Regions from separate parts of the Homo sapiens genome. Here region 2 is linked to region 1. Evidence: fine-mapped expression QTL. A gene starts in region 1. The other region holds a variant in brackets. All regions are shown on one strand. Distances are between the middles of the regions. Region 1 holds the start of GNB4 (G protein subunit beta 4). Region 2 has its middle 31 kb from the start of ACTL6A.

Evidence for each region.
Region 2: its variant is fine-mapped to the expression of GNB4 in caudate (GTEx, PIP 0.95).

What each region holds. Positions count from the first base shown.
Region 1 is chr3:179,446,714-179,455,053 of GRCh38, reverse strand. It overlaps GNB4 (G protein subunit beta 4), which reads left to right and starts at 3,584. Exons shown (of 10, transcript NM_021629.4): 1 at 3,584-3,708. It also overlaps the pseudogene RPL29P34. RefSeq lists silencers at 3,414-3,563, 3,604-4,013.
Region 2 is chr3:179,527,777-179,536,116 of GRCh38, reverse strand. It overlaps a transcript of GNB4 not described here. Among named protein-coding and RNA genes, the nearest start is that of ACTL6A, 31 kb to the left of the region's middle. The variant C/T (reference allele first, on the strand shown) is at 4,306.

The DNA of each region.
Region 1 (8,340 bases):
AAGTACAAACTGTACTTTGATATGGAAAATGCATTGTGTGTGAGCAAGAGGGAAGGCTTTAGGCATGACTACTCTGTATCAAGGATGTCTGTCTGAAACCACACATAGACTGACTTCTTACAGAATCTACTAGGGAATTGCTTCTCATGTCCTTGGGAAACTGTGCTGTAGATCCTGTTAGATAATTTCCATTTAATATTTTATAACTTATTTTGTTGTGGGTGAAATAAAATCTGTTACGGTAGTTGTGATGTTGTATGTATATAATTTGGCCTCATTTCAAACACAATAGAATTGGAATGCATACAACACATACAGGGCGGTACTGAAATATTGTACACTTTAATAGCTGTGTTCTTCACGGTGTGCTTGGCATCGTCTGAGAGCAAGGTAGGCTCAGAAAAAAATATAGACCATTTCTAGGGTAAAACTTAAAAGCAGGATATACAAACCTATGGCACTATGGATTACAGGGTAGCTCACTGAGTACAGCATTCAGATTCATCCAATGTAGGACCAAGAGCAGAGCTTCTCTGAACTTGATCATAGTGAAGCAAAACACCCTGCAAAAGAAACTGTAACTAAACTCCTAGAAAAGCAATGACCACTTTCTCCTCTCCTATGATTCTGACTAGCGTGTGGGATGGGGTGAGGTATGCAGGTTATTTGCATAAAACAAGCAGCCAAGTGCATTCACTCATTTATTTGTTCGTGGAGTACCTAGCAAATGCAAGGTGCTCTGTTAAACACTATGGCAGACACAAAGATGAAACGGACAAGGATTTTGTCTTCAAAGGTTCTCTAGTAGGGACCCCACTATGCTCTCTTAATAGAGTAGGATTTGAGAACATGGGCCTAATGAGTTAGAAATCTAATTATCAGCCAGTGGCACCCAAACAAAAGATCATGGGGCTTAATCCTCAGAAGTAGGATACATCTCTACAATTGTCTACACAAACCAGCAGGCATCAGAAATGTTAATAGCATACCCCTTCACCTTTCTCTCTGCCTCCCTTCCCAGTCTCTCTCTTTTGTTCTTCGTGGATTTCATTATCATTGGAAAAATCATGAATTGCTGGATCACTTAGATGCATTAGTGTGCTCTTATGAAATCATTCCTGATGACAAAATTCTTTTAATCAGCTCCACTTTCAGATTTTCAGTATAGGCTTGTCCTTTAACAAGTAAGTTTTTTTTTTTTTTTCCAGAACAATATGGAGCAGGTATGGCAAAACAGAAATACAATATTCTTGGAAGTAGATTCGTTTGGATAATAATTAAACTTTCCTTTTTCTGTACTTGGACTTTATTCTTCTAGTAATTTCTTTGTCTACATTAAATTTTCAGGAAGATTGACGATATCATTCTTTTAAACTCTTTAAAAGACAGTCAAATTCTTGTTACATCTTTTCAGGTTTTGTATTTTATGTTTAGGAGCTGTTCATTTATATTTCCCCTCATCTTTTCTGGAATAGACTATCTCATTGCTTCCCACTGTGTTTTCCTAAATACCAGCAACTTGTTTTTCAACAAATAATCTTAACCCAACAACCAGCTCTCAAAGCTTTATAACATCTGGTAAATGCTAGTGCACAGGAACAAGGCAGAAAAGAATCTAAAGAAAGAATATGGGGCCGGGATCGGTGGCTCACGCCTGTAATTCCAGCACTTTGGGAGGCCGAGGTGGGCGGATCACCTGAGGTCAGCAGATTGAGACCAGCCTGGTCAACACGGTGAAACCCCGTGTCTACTAAAAATACAAAAAATCAGCCGGGCGTGGTGGCTTGTGCCTGTAATCCCAGACTTGGGAGGCTGAGACACGAGAATCGCTTGAATCCTGGAGGTGGAGGTTGCAGTGAGCTGACATCACATCACTGCACAGTGACTCCGTCTCAAAACAAAAAAACAAACAAAAAAAAGAAAGAATGTGGGCTTTGGAGTTGATCCAATCTGATGTCATGCAGGGCTCTACCAATACCTTCGTGACTCCGATAAATTAATCTTACCAGGGCATCAGTTTGCTTATCTGTAAAATGGGGATAAAATTCACACTTCAAGGTAATTATGAGGATTAAGTACAGTATAAGAAAGCAGAGAGCATGGTCCGTAATAGGCACTCTTTAACAATTTCCCTTTGCTTCCTCCGAAAAACGACAATCATAAAACTCAGGATTTAATCATTAAAACATAAATAGTTACAGATGCAAAACACTCATGTCCCAACGAGCTCTTCTGACACTTTGATATGCAGAATATTTGGCATTTCTTTCTTCTTAATGGAAAAATGCTCCTAATATTAGTAAAAATGAAAATTTTGGGGGAAAAATTATCCACAGTTTCTTTATCTGTGGATAAAGAAAATAGAAACAGCTGCTTCTATTTTTGTCACGGCCTGGCTTTTATACAAAACGGTCACATTTTCCCCACAGTCACAAACAGGGTGTGTTTATCATGGCATCACCTCTTTCAAGGGACTAATAGATTTATTCCAGGTGATAGTGGGAAGCAGCTACAGAAGGAGGATTGGAAGGCTGAGGGGTTGTTAAAGTTATCTGATGATATTGTTCGAACATTTCTCCGGCACAGAAACTCCACAAAGAACTCCTCTGCAGTTTTCGCTACCCAGGGCTGTTTCTTTAAATTGTTTGACGTCAGAGAAGGAATGCTATAGCAACAGTCTGTCAAACTGGAATTAACTCAGAAGAAAAATGGGGGTGGGGAGAGGAAAAATGCTCCCAGGCGGTACTGACTTCAGAGGAAGCAAATTGGATAGATGCATTTATTTTATGACATTTTAAACATAAAACACCCAGATAAATGTGAAAAAAAAAAAAACTCGATTGAGATGCATGTGGTGTTTAACTCATGCAGAGAAGAGCGACTTGGCAGGGATATCTGGAAGGCCTTCCAGTTTTATCAATGACAATAGGAACAATAACTTCCAAGTATTGGCCATTTATTTGGAGGCAGGCTTCGTGCAAACATCACTTCATTTAATATGCTTAGCACCTTTATGAGGCAGGTATCAGTATCTTTATTTTGGCGATGACGAAACTTAGGCCCGAGACGGTACACGGTCCTACAACTAGTGATGGAAGAGCGGGGACTGCAACGCAAGGTTGTGCAACTCTGGGCTTCAGTTTACTTTCTGACATTTAGAATTCCAGAATGGGAAACCTAAATGGGGCCTTTGGGGTCTTCTAGCTCTGCCCTTCGATCCTGCTAACAAGCAAACTGGCGCCTGTCAGCGCCGGAAAGGAAACTGGCCACGCCACTTAGACGGGCGCTACTTAGCAGCGTGCCCCGGCGCCACACCAACAAGAAAACGAAACTGCCCGGGAATGAATGTTTTTCTTCTCCTTCTGGCAGGAAACGAGAGAGAAAATAGGAAGCAGAAGCTGCGCGCGGCGCCCGCTCCCTTCGCCCCCCGCCCGGGCTGCGCGCGCTCCGAGGGTCTGCGCGTCCCCGGCACGTCCCCGCCGGGCCCGCGCGCCTCGTGCCTCGCGCCTCGCGCCTCCAGCCACGTCCCCGCCCCGGCTCCGGCGCGCCGCGGAGTTGGCTGCTGGGAGGTGCGGGACTGGGTGTGGCCGGCGGCTCTGGTCTCGGCTGTGAGCTGCGCTCTCCACGCCGGCTCCGCGCTCCAGGGGCTGCTGAGCGCCCAGCGGACACCGGCAGCGCGCGGTCGACGCGGGCCTGAGCTCCCTCCAGGTAGGCGGCGAGCTCGCGAGCGGCGGCTCGTCGGTGCGCCCCGCGAAGCGATCCCGGGCTTCTCGCAGGGACGTGGGGCGCCGCGAGCCACCCCTGCGGAACGGGGCCCGGGTGACGGCGCGGGGCGGGGCGGGTCTCCCCGGGCTCGGGCGGCCGACGCTGCCCGGGAGGGACGAGGAGGGCGCGCCTGTGTCGCGCCCAGCTGCCACGCGGGAACTGGCCCCACGACCGCCGGCGCAGGCACTTCCCGGGCGGTCCAGACCGCTCGCCCCGGGGAGCGAGGAACGGTCGGCGGTCCAAGTCCTGCAGACCCCCCTGGTTTCTCGTCACTCCCCGAGGCCTCCTTCCAGGAACTCAGAGCACGAGCCCGTGCGTGCCCCCAAAATAACGGGTATTCGGGACTGCCCAGCAGGGCTGTTGGGTGGAGAGTGCTTGGAAGACTCATAAAAGTTCTACGCTGAGTCCAAAATTAGTCCAATGGTTTTGTTTCAGATTTATTTTGGAAATGATATAATGTCCAGAGTTTGGGGATGGGAGGGGATTGATGAATTTTGAATACTTGTGAGTTCAGTACAATAAAAAGTGTTTTGCTTTTCTCTCCACCTTTTTCTGCTTCAGAACACAGATGATTGCCATATACTTTGATATGTATTGCTATTCGCTAAGGGAACGTTGAATTTTCAAAAGTTTGAAACCAGGCTTTCATTTGTTTATACAAGCAATACTTTGTTATTTTTCGTCTCCTTGTGTTCCCTTTTCTCCCACTCCTTCCCTTTCTCTTTCCATAAAGGATAAGGATGCATCTTTCTCCCTCTCAGCCACCGACAAAGTAGCTTGGCGTGTGGCTTAGCGGGAAGTTTTCTTAAAACGTTCAAAATTTAATTGTTGATTAGAACTTTTATTATGAGTCCGTCTCAGTGTTGCAAACAGAGTTTATGACCATTAAGTACATCTTCTAGGACAGAGACAGAACACACGCTACTTAATTTAAGATGGGAGGGAAGTTATTTCTAGTCGGAGAGGAGGACGGCTGATTAGGTGCATTCAAAATTGTGTGCTTCGAGTCTCTGCCATTGTTCATTTTAATACTCTTCAGTTTGGGGCTTTTGGTTTACTACTGATCCTAGGCTCTGAAAATTTACTGTATATTTCAGTATGTGGCTTAAAGACATTTTAAGATTTTCCATGTTGCATTTTGGTTTGTAGATGAATTTGAAACTGAAATAGAAACTTTTAAAATATCATCTTATTGAACGTTGTCAACCCTCTGTATATACATTTATAAAACTGATTGATACAGCTTGTGATATTTTAGGTTGGTTCAACTCTTTGTGGGCCCATAAACATTATTTAGGAAGTTATTCCGAGTCTTTGGCCTTTGTTAACCTGTAGAATTGTTTCTTTTAAACAATTGGCATGTAAGTATGTCAGCACATACTTTTACACTTTAAAAATAGACTCTGGGGCAATTTGAAAATTAAGAATTGGAACTAAGTGTTGGACATTCTTCTGGCCTTACCAAATACTGCCTGAGATGGTGTGATTTCTCTTAGGCATGTTATTGAAGTCAGCTGGCTGTATCATCAGTTTCTTTACCTTGCTGACTATTTTAATCTGCGTCTGTTATGGACTTATTTATTAAAATATCTCTTCTGGGCTGGGGCAGTGCTGTAAGTTATTCTACTTATATCTCACAGTAACACCATTATCTACTTCCACAGGTAAGGAAATTGTCTGTGAGGTTTTAAGTAACTTGGCAGTGGTCATGTAGGTGTTAGGTAACTCAACTGGGATTCGAAGCAAGACCCCTCTGTTTCCAAAGTCCATGTTCTTTCCCCTGAGCCATATTAACTTAGTTCGAGGGCATGAGGAGTGACCCTCAATTACTCATTAGCATGTGTGTAAAATATCCAAGACATGCCAGAAGCATGTTTGTTTTTCCAGCATGATCATTATTGTCTGTCCCATGTTTTTATACAGCTTCTCACATCAGCCATTCTCTTCTCACCACTCTACTCCTAGTTAAATGTCTTGTTCCAAGTTCAAAACCTCCCTTTTGCCAGGGCACAGTGTATCCTATTGATATTAATAGGTAGTGATGGCTTAATTATCTTGATAAAACAGTAACTCCATTTTAATGTGGGTTCTCTAGAGATAGAGTTATAACTAATTTGGAAGGTTACAAACAGGATTGCGGTCAATTTTGGGATATGAGAACCCTTTGATATCCCTCAAATTAAACTAGAGGATATTTTGATGGATATTTCCCTCTGCAATTTATCATACTCTCTCCTGCACCTTCAATTTGTCAGTTACTACAGAATCATTTACATTATTGTACAGTCTGCCATTTTAAAATAAAATGGTTTCTTGATCCAGTGTTCTGCTTCAGTGACTGCCTCATTTCTTTTTATTTATTTATTTTTATAAATAGAAGCGGGATCTCGCTGTGTTGCCCAGGCTGGTCTTGAACTCTTGGGCTCAAGCAGTCCACCCACCTCAGCCTCCCAAAGTGTTAGGATTACAGGCGTGAGCCACGGCGTCTGGCCCTGCCTCATTTCTCTACCTCACCTTGAGGAAGCGTAGTTTTTTGACAGAACAAAAAATAAATACAGGAGTGAGAACCAGAAACTAATTAGTTACCTACAGGCACCGGGTAGGAACTGAGTAAATGGGAACAACAGAAGGAATGGCCTTGTTCTGAATGTACTTTTTTGCATAGTTTTGAGTTTTGGAAACTGTTAGTCTTTTTTATGTTCAAAAATAAAATTAACAAGATGTGGAGAGTGGGACTCCAAAACAATACAAACAGCAACAACAAACCGTGTATTTATGTGAATAATATAAACTCCCAGAAGAAAAAAAAAAAAACCAAGTAAGTTTTGAGCACAGGATTAAAGATTAAAGAACTGAAAAAATAATCTTGAACTCTGTGTAGTAGGCTATTATTTGTATGGTAGAGGTGTAGCAATTCTGAAACTATTTTGTGTGCATTATAGGATTGAGCAAATGAGTAAATTCATTGATATTTTGGGAACTAGGGTTTCCAACGTGGAAGAAGAGAAATGAAAACATGAAACAGGCCAGGCGCGGTGGCTCACACCTGTAATCCCAGCACTGGGAGAAATGAAAAGTTAAAAATAAAACTTCAAACAATAACAATGCAGCTTTGCTTCAAAAAGAAAATCTTTGAAGGGACTCCATGTAGGCTGTCTCTACTCCTTATCTGCCATCTTCTTCTGAACCCGCTTCAGAGACACATTATCCCTCCTACTCCATGAAACAATTCTTCTCCAGGTCACCAGGGATGTCAGTCTTGCCAAACTGGATCTTCAGCCACATTTGACACAGGCAACAGATAACTCCTTCCCTATCAAAATGTCGTTTCCCCTTGGCTTCTGGGACACCGCTCTTTCTGATTTTCATCCTGCCTCATTGGCTACAGTTTCTCATTCTTCTCCATCTCAGTCAATGGTACCACCATCCACCAGTTGCTGAGGCTAAAAATTCTAATTCCCCATTTCACTCATTCTAAATCTATTCCTTCAACAGCAAGTATTATGGGCTCTACCTTCAAAATCACTGCAGATTGGACCATCTTTTTTAAAAAGTTAATTTGACCATTCCTATCACCTGCACTGCCACCACCACCACCCTGGTGTCAAACTGTATTCTTCCCTGGCCTGGATGACTGCAGGAGCCCCCCAACTGGTTTGTCAGCTTCCACTCTCTGTCTCCCACCAGCCAGCATGAACTTTAAAAGAGGTAAATCAAAGCAGGTTATATCTCAGTCGTCAGAACCCATTATTGTTAGATAAAATAAAAACGTTTTAGCCAGGCGTGGTGGTGCATATCTGTGGTCTCAGCTACATGGGAGTCTGAGGCGGGAGGATTGCTTGAGTCCAGGAGGTCAAAGTTGCAGTGAGCCATGTTTGTGCCTGGGCAATAGAGTGAGACCCCATCTGAAAAAAAATCAGGATTTTTTTTTTTTTTTTTTTTAATACCATGATCAAGAGACGGTGACTGGGCTCTGGCACACCCTTCTAGTCTCATCTGCTGCTCTCTGCCCTGCTCACTCTCTTCCAGCCTCGCCATCGTCACTGCTGTAGGTCCAGCATGTCAGGTTAGTTTCTGCCTGGGCCTTTGCTTGCTGTTCTGCCTGTAATGCTTTCTCCCAATGAAGACATAGCTCATCCTCTCATTTCATTCAGTCCTTACTTAATTTATTTGAAAATAGCCTTCCTCGTCACCCTCTAACCTCTTGAAGTTCTTGCAGTTTTTTTCTTGCATACGACTTATCTGTACTTAAAATTATGTTATTGATGTGCTGTATTATTTATCTCCTAGACAGATACAGAACAAAGCACTGTGGCAATAGGAAGTTTTGTTTTGTTTACTACCGAATCTCTAGAGCCTAGAATATGTTTGGCACATGGTCGGGACTCAGATATTTGTTGAATGAAGGAATGAATGCATGAATTAATATTTGTTGTATCTTAGCTAATGCCGTTTCAAATGGAGAAGACGGTTTCCAGAGAATCTTACAGCGTTAGTGCTACGTAAGGTGTTTGGTGATGCTGCTACAGCTTCTCTGAAAGCTAACAAGTTACCAACTTTGAGTGTTTTCACGTT
Region 2 (8,340 bases), 81 kb before region 1:
GAAAAAAATTGTATCAAGCTGCAACTGTGAAGTGGGTGTTAGGTTCTGAACATCGATGTGAATATGAAATAGTTCCTGCTTTCATCATATTCACAGCATAGTACCCGAGAGATATTTAAAAATAATTGTCTGGCCGGGTGCAGTGGCTCACACCTATAATCCCAGCACTTTGGGAGGCCGAGGTGGGTGGATCACCTGAGGTCAGGAGTTCGAGACCAGCCTGGCCAACATGGTGAAACCCCGTCTCTACTAAAAATACAAAAATTAGCTGGGCGTGGTGGCACTCACCTGTAGTCCCAGCTACTTGGGAGGCTGAGGCAGGAGAATCGCTTGAACCTGGGAGACGGAGTTGCAGTGAGCCAAGATCATGCCACTGCACTCCAGCTGGGTGACAGAGTGAGATTCCGTCGCAAAAAAAAAAAAAAAAATTGTGTATATTTCCTGGTGGTTTCTCCCTGTTTCCCTCTCCTTCCCATACCTGATGCATCTATAGATATGCACAGCTACTGAGAGCCTCTGACCAGAGCTCAAACCATCACCCCCCTTGAGGTCCGACACAACATATCAGCATATCTGGAGTGTCTAAAGCTTAATTGCAAAGCAAGTACCACAACCCTGAGAGAAGAAAAGTCAAGAATGATGAGGGAGAACAAAAAGGGTCCTGAGAGTTTCAGGAAAATAGTAGCTTAGGACACTCTAGGAGAACTAAGCTTCTTTTGTTTGTTTGTTGACACAGTTTCCCTCTGTTGCTGAGGCTGGAATACAGTGGTGCCATCTTGGCTCACTGCAACCTCGGCCTCCCGGGTTCAAGCGATTCTCCTGCCTCAGCCTCCCGAGTAGCTGGGATTACAGGCGCACCACCACGCCTGGCTAATTTTTGTATTTTTGGTAGAGTCAGCATTTCACCATGTTGGCCAGGCTGGTCTCGAACTCCTGACCTCAAGTGATCCAACTGCCTCAGCCTCCCAAAGTGATGGGATTACAGGTGTGAGCTACTGTGCTCGGCCAGGAGAACTGTCTCTTGAAGAACGCTACCTTCACTGAGCCTCTACCCAGACACCACATGTTCCTGTTTTTCTTCTGCCACACAGACTCCCCTTTGGCAGAGCCCGCCTCTTCTTTCTGGCCTCTAAATATTACAGTGTCCTAGGAGGCAGTCCTCAAAGCTCTTCTTTTCTATCTATTCACACTCCCTAAGTGATCTCATCCAACCTCATTCAATCAGGAGCAGTGACTGCACCTAGAGAGGAACAGCTGTGGGGAGGTCTGTGTGATGGGAGCTGTGGCTTTGATCAAGGGACTCAGGCAATCTTCAGCGAGGGAGCTGGGGGAATACACCACCTCACTTGCTCTTTTTTTCGGATCTGCCCCAAGGCTGGCTGAATCCAGCTGGAAACCAGGGGTTGGAGTTCATTGACTTAATCCATGCAGGTCAGGCTGTGTGAAGGTAAACAGCAGAGTGGAGAGGCATGGAGTGAGAATAAGGAAGGCTGCAAAGACATGCAGCACACTTTCGATATGCTGAAGACTCCCTCATTTGTGTATTTCCAGCCCTAACCTTTCCGGTGGAATCCCAATGGCCTGCTTGGCCATCTCCTCCTGAATATTCACTTGATTGTCCCATCCCCCAGCCTGGTCCGCCTCCCCTTCCTTCCACACTCTCCTCCCAATTTCACCACCATTCACACAGTTGTTTAGGCCCAAACCTACCTTCCATCCCCGAATCCTTTCTCTTATAACCAACCCATGAGCAAGTTATGCCAGTGCCACTTTTAAGAAATGTCCAGAATCTGGATATTTCTCACCACACCCACTGCTTCCACCCTAGTCCATGCCCACATTGTCTCTTGCTTGTATGAGGGCAGTAACTTCCTAACTCCCACTTCTACCCTTGCCCCCAGTATGGTCTATTCTACCTTGGCCCCATGAGGTCTACACAGCAGCCAGAGTGATCCTTCTCCAGCTACTCTTTAACCCCTTACCTTGTTTTAATTTTCTTTCCAGCAAGTAACTCCACGTAAATACCTATTATATGTTTATTCATGTATTTGTTTATTGTTGTTTCTTCCATTAAAATGTAGGTTCCATGATGGCAGGAATCTTCTTTTCTACCAAGTTTTCCCCTCAGTTGAACAGACTAATTGTTTAATGGAAAATGAATATAACTTTTTAAAACACACTGTCAAGAGGATGAGAAGACAAGCTTCAGACTGGTAGAAAATATTTGCAATAGATATATGTGATAAAGGACTATTAACTAAAATACAAAGAACTCTTAAAACTCAATAATAAGAAAACAAATAACCTGATTAAAAAATGGCAAGAGACCTGAACAGATACCTCACCAAAGAAGATATACAGAGGCAAGTAAGTATATGGAAAGGAGCTCAATATCATATGTCATTAGAGAAATGCAAATTAAAACAACAATGATGAGATTCTACCACACAGCTATTGGAATGGCCAAAATCCAAAACACTGACATCTCCAAAGGCTGACAAGGATGTGGAACAACAGGAGCTCTCATTCATTGTTGGCGGGAATGAAAAATGGTACAGCTACTTTGGAAGAGCGTTTGGCAACTTCTTACAAAACTAAACCTACTGTTACCATATAATCCAGCAATCATGTTCCTTGGTATTTACTCAAATGAGTTGAAACCTTACGTCCACATAAAAACCTGCACATGAATGTTTATAGCAGCTTTATTCACAATTGCCAAAAATTGGAAGCAATCAAGATGTCCTTCAGTAGCTGAATAAATAAACTGTAGGACGTCCAGATAAGGGGATGCTAAAAAGAAATGCAAAAAAGTGCTACAAAGAAATGAGCTATCAAACCATGAAAAACATGGGAAAAGCTTTAAATGCCTATTGCTAAGTGAAAGAAGTCAATCTGAAAACCTATATCACAGGTTCAATTCTGTGATATAAAGCAACACATCACAAAGCGTTTTTACAGATAGCTTGTTTCTAGTTTTTAGGGCTGGATATTCATATTTTCTTATAAAAGGTCAATAGGTTCGGAAACGTCACTTCTTAGATTCTAAAAAAAGAGTGTTCCGAACTTGTTAAATGCAAATTCAACTACGATTTCAACTATGTGATCTCTGGAAAAGGTAAAACTATTGAGACAATAAAAAGATCAGTGGTTCCCAGGGGAAGGTTTGATTTCAACTATATGATCTCTAGAAAAGGTAAAACTATTGAGACAGTAAAGATCAGTGGTTACCAGGGGAAGGAGGGATGAATGGCAAAGCACTGAGAATTTTAAGGCAATGAAACTTCTGTAGGATTCTACCATGGTGGATGTATATCATTATATATTTGTTCAAACCCATAGCATGTAAAACACCAAGACTGAACACTAATGTAAGCTATGGACTATATCAATGTAGGTTCAGTGGTTGTAACAAATATACCACTCTGGTGTGGGATGTTGACAGTGGGGGAGGCTGTACATGGTGTTGGTGCAGGGGGCGTATGGGAATTCTATGTACTTTCTGTTCAGTTTTGCTATGAACCTAAAACACCTCTAGAAAGTAAACTCCCTTTCAAAAAAGAAAAAGATAATATGTGTGGAGACCCTAGAGAAAAAAAAGGACCATAAATCTAGAAAAACTAGCCCACTACACTCTGAGACTAACCATTTGTCAAAACAGCAAATGTACACTTAAGATTTGTACATTTCATTGTAGATGTTATATGTAGATGTTATAACAAAAGAAAACCTATAAACAAATACTGAATTCTAGTTGTGATATGCATGCTGAAATATTTACAGGGGAAGTGAACTCATGTCTGCAATTTATTTGAAATGCATCAAAAGTGGATGGATTAAGATATAGATAAAAGAATAGATGGATGGATGGATGGATGCATGGTAGACAGACAGACATATGATAAGGCCAGTTGAGTATATTGAAAATAGAAGAATCTGGGTGATGAGTATATTGGTTGTTCACTGTAAAATTCTTTCAACTTGCTATCTGTCTGAATTTTTTCATAATAAAATATTGGGATAAACTATATTCAAAACAAGGGTGCAGCTTCCACTTGTTTTTGAGATATATTAGTGCCAAACATTTTAATGACCTTGGCAGTTATGGTGGGACAGAACACTTAAGCTAATAACTGAATCGTCACCTTGCTTAAATTAAAAACTCAAAGAAGTTTTTTCAGACCTCCAAGTCCTTAAACAGTTTATGAAGAATGTTTGTGAAATGGAAGATTGCTTATGCTCATCTTAAAGCCACTTAGTGCTGGCACAAGCCTCAGTCCTCAGAATCATCTATAATGCATGCAC[C/T]GTGTGCCCTCAGCAGTGTTTTTTCTCTTTTCTTGACGTCAGTTGCCATTTGTAAGGGTTTCCAAGGTAGTGACCAGACACATCTAAAGGCAAGCCTACAAGAAAGAACAACATACTTATTTTTCCCTTTTAGCCTCAAATATATTTAAAATGCATAACACATTCAGTTTGATGAAATTCTACTTCAGAGAGAACCAAACTTCACAGTACAGAAAAGAGCTCCCTACTCTTGTCTCTGCAGCTCCGCTTTTAATGACTGGATTTGTTTAAAAAAAAAAAAAACTATGTAGACTTCTCTTTACACCACAGTTTCCCTCTGCCCCCAGGGAAAAAATGTGAGAAGGTGCTAGGTATATTTTAAAAATAATTTTGGTAAAGTCAGTAGAAAGACCTAGTTTACCTCAAAAGTCAGCATGGGAAAAATTTGGATCTGTTCAAAATAGGAATATATCATGTTCCTTGGAAAGTATGTGATTTTTAAAAATTAATTAAGACATAATACTTAGGCCTATCAATCGGTATGGTTAATTGACATATTTCTACCTGGACAGATGTTACATTGTATGAGTTGTATATTTTATATAAATAAAAGGTAAGTTTGGCTAGGTGTGGTGGCCCGTGCCTGTAATCCTAACACTTTGGGAGGCTAAGGCAGGAGGATCTTTTGAGCCCAGGAGTTCAAGACTAATCTGGGCAACATAGGGAGACCCCCATCTCTACAAAAAAATTAAAAATAAAAAAATTAGCCAGACCTGGTGGTGCATACCTGTAGTCCCAGCTACTGTGGTGGGAGGATCACCTGAGTCCAGGGGGTTCAAAGCTTCAGTGAGCCATGATTGCGTCACTGCACTCCAGCCTGGGCAACAGAGTAAGACTCTGTCTTAAAGATAGATAAATAAATAAATAAGGGTAAGTTTTATAACTGTACACATTTAACATGTATGTTTTTATTTGTGGCAGCAATAAATAAACCATTATGGATCAAGGAGGAACCCCATCACAGTTTTTAAACCTACACTCAAGCCAGGTTGAGTAATGTGGTGCTTACAGTCCCAGTTACTTGGGAGGCCGAGGTGGGAGGATTGCTTGAGAACAGGAGTTGGAGGCCAGCCTGGGCAACATAGCAAGACTCTGTACTTTTCTGTTTATTTATTTATTTATTTTAGAAATGGGATCTGCTATCTTGTTGTTTAAAAACAACAACACAACAACAAGGAAATAAATTCATTTGGCCCATCGCCATCCTATTTAAGCTTCTGATTTTTTTTTTCTTTTAAGAGACAAGGTTGGAGTGCAGTGGTGTATCACAGCTCACTGCAACCTCAAACTTCTGGGCTCAAGAAATCCTCTTGCTTCTGCCTTCCAAGTATTTGGGACTACAGGCGTGCACCACCATGCCCAGCTAATTTGTTTTTTTACTTTTAGTAGAAACAAGATCTTGCTATGTTGCCCAGGCTGGTCTTTAACTTCTGGCCTCAAGCAATCCTCCCCTGTTGGCTTCCCAAAGTGCTGGAATTAAAGGTGGGAGCCACTGAGGCCGGCCAGTTTCTGATTTTTTTAAAAAACTTTCAATTGATTAATTTATTTTGGGGGGAAATCTCACTGTGTTGCTCAAGCTGGTCTGAACTCCTGGGCTCAAGGAATCCTCCTGCCTCAGGCTCCCAAGGAGCTGGAATTACAGGTGTAGCCGCTATGCCTGGTTTAAGCTTCTAATTTTCATGCGCACTCATTTAACTAAGATATATTAAATGCTTTCTGTTTTTCAGGTGTTATGCTGACAATAGGTAGCTGAGTATGTGCCTCTTCTCCAGGGACTTGCAATCTAGTTGGAAAGACGGCATGTAAATAACTTTTTAGGGATATGTGACAAGCAGTCCATTTGGGCTGCTGTAATAAAATACCTTAGATTGGGTGATTTATAAATAACAGAAATTTTCTTCTCACAGCATTGAACATTGAACGGGCCATACTAACAAGTGCTGCGAGAAGCCTTTGATTCTGCCTGGAAAGATCTGGAAAGGCCAAACCCCTGTCCTCAGTTCCTTGTAGAGACAACAGGGTAATCTTTTTTTTTTTTTTTTTTTTTGAGACAGAGTTTTGCTCTCATCACCCAGGCTAGAGTGCAATGGTGCAATCTCGGCTCACTGCAACTTCTGCCTCCCGGGTTCAAGCGATTCTCCTGCCTCAGCCTCCCAAGTAGCTGGGATTACAGGCACGTGCCACCATGCCCGGCTAATTTTGTATTTTTAGTAGAGATGGGGTTTCTCCATGTTGGTCAGGCTGGTCTCAAGCTCCTGACCTCAGGTGATTTGCCCGCCTCGGCCTCCCAAAGTGCTGGGATTATAGGTGTGAGCCACCGCGTCTGGCCTAGCAGCAGGGTAATCTTTGTACCGGGGTTGGAAACTGGTAGCCTACGGACTATATCAGGATTCAAAACTCATTTTGTTTGGTCTACATAGGATTTTGAAAATCCGAGAATATCTTATATAAAAATTCAGATTTGTGGAGTTTTCTGAAAAGTTGCAAGATCTGGCAATTCTGGGCTACAATCAACTGGATCTAGACAAGCTGCTTTCAGTTTGTTTTATAACCAAACTGCATGACCACTGACTAATTATATTGCCTTTCAGCAGTTGACCTTCTGTCCCGTTAAGTGGGATTGATAATACCACGTTTGCGTTTTTTGAAAGTGGATTCTGTAAGAGCAGGGAGTGGAGCAGTATTTCTCAAAATGTGGTCTACAGCTACCTTTGTCAGTATCATGTACAACAGTTCTTCCCAACATTTACTGTGGGTATGAATCACCTGGCTATTCTGCAGACTGTGCTCTTTCAAAGTCATACAGTGCATCATTCAACAAAGGAGTCACTAGTCACATGTGACTACTTCAGTTTAAATTAATTCACATTCAACTCCTCAGCATACTAGTCACATTTCAAATGCTCAACAGCTACATGTTCCTGTGGCTACATCACTGGACAGTGCAATAGAACATTTCCATCATCACAGAAAGCTTCATTCGATAGTGCTGTACACAACATTGTCTCAGTCCTTAATGCCTGCCATCACAAAATACCTTAGACTGAGTAACTTATAAACAACAAAAATGTATTTCTCACAGTTCTATAGGCTGGAAAGTCCAAGATCAAGGCACTGGCAGATTCAGTATCTAGAAGACACCTGCTCAGAGTATCCTTACAGGGTGGAAGGGGAAAAGCAGCTCCCTGGGACCCTCTTTTATAAACGTACTAATCCCATTCATGATGGCTTTCCCCTGGTGACCTAATCACCTCCCAAAGACTTTATCTCCTAATAACCATCACATTGGTGATTTCAAAACAAGAATTTTGAGGGGATGACATTCAGGCCATAGCAAACATTGTCTAAGTCCACCTGAAACCACTCATCACCTAGGGATGTCATTTTGTTTGATCTACTATGCTTTATTGATTAGGGTTGATTGTCTTTAAAATTAGATGTGGACATTTAGAAAATTAATCAGTCACAATTGGTTTTTTGTCATATAGAGAGTCAAATGCTTTATGTCCAATAAAAAAGAATCTTAAAGGTTTTTGTTTGTTTTTTTGTTTTTTGTTTTTTTGAGATGGAGTCTCACTCTGTTGCCCAGGCTGGAGTGCAGTGGCACGATCTCGGCTCACCACAAGCTCCGCCTCCTGGGTTCACGCCATTCTCCTGCCTCAGCCTCCTGAGTAGCTGGGACTACAGGTGCGTGTCACCATGCCTGGCTAATTTTTTGTATTTTTAGTAGAGACGGGGTTTCACCATGTTAGCCAGGATGGTCTCGATCGCCTGACCTCATGATCCACCTGCCTCAGCCTCCCAAAGTGCTGGGATTACGGGTGTGAGCCACTGCGCCTGGCCAAGATTTCGATTTTATTGCTCTGTGGGACATTAGTCAGTTCTCTGTTCTCTATATAACTCTGCAATTTTATCTAGCATTCTTTTCTTCTACTGGTGACATGTACACACACACACACACACACACACACACACACACACATACATACACACACG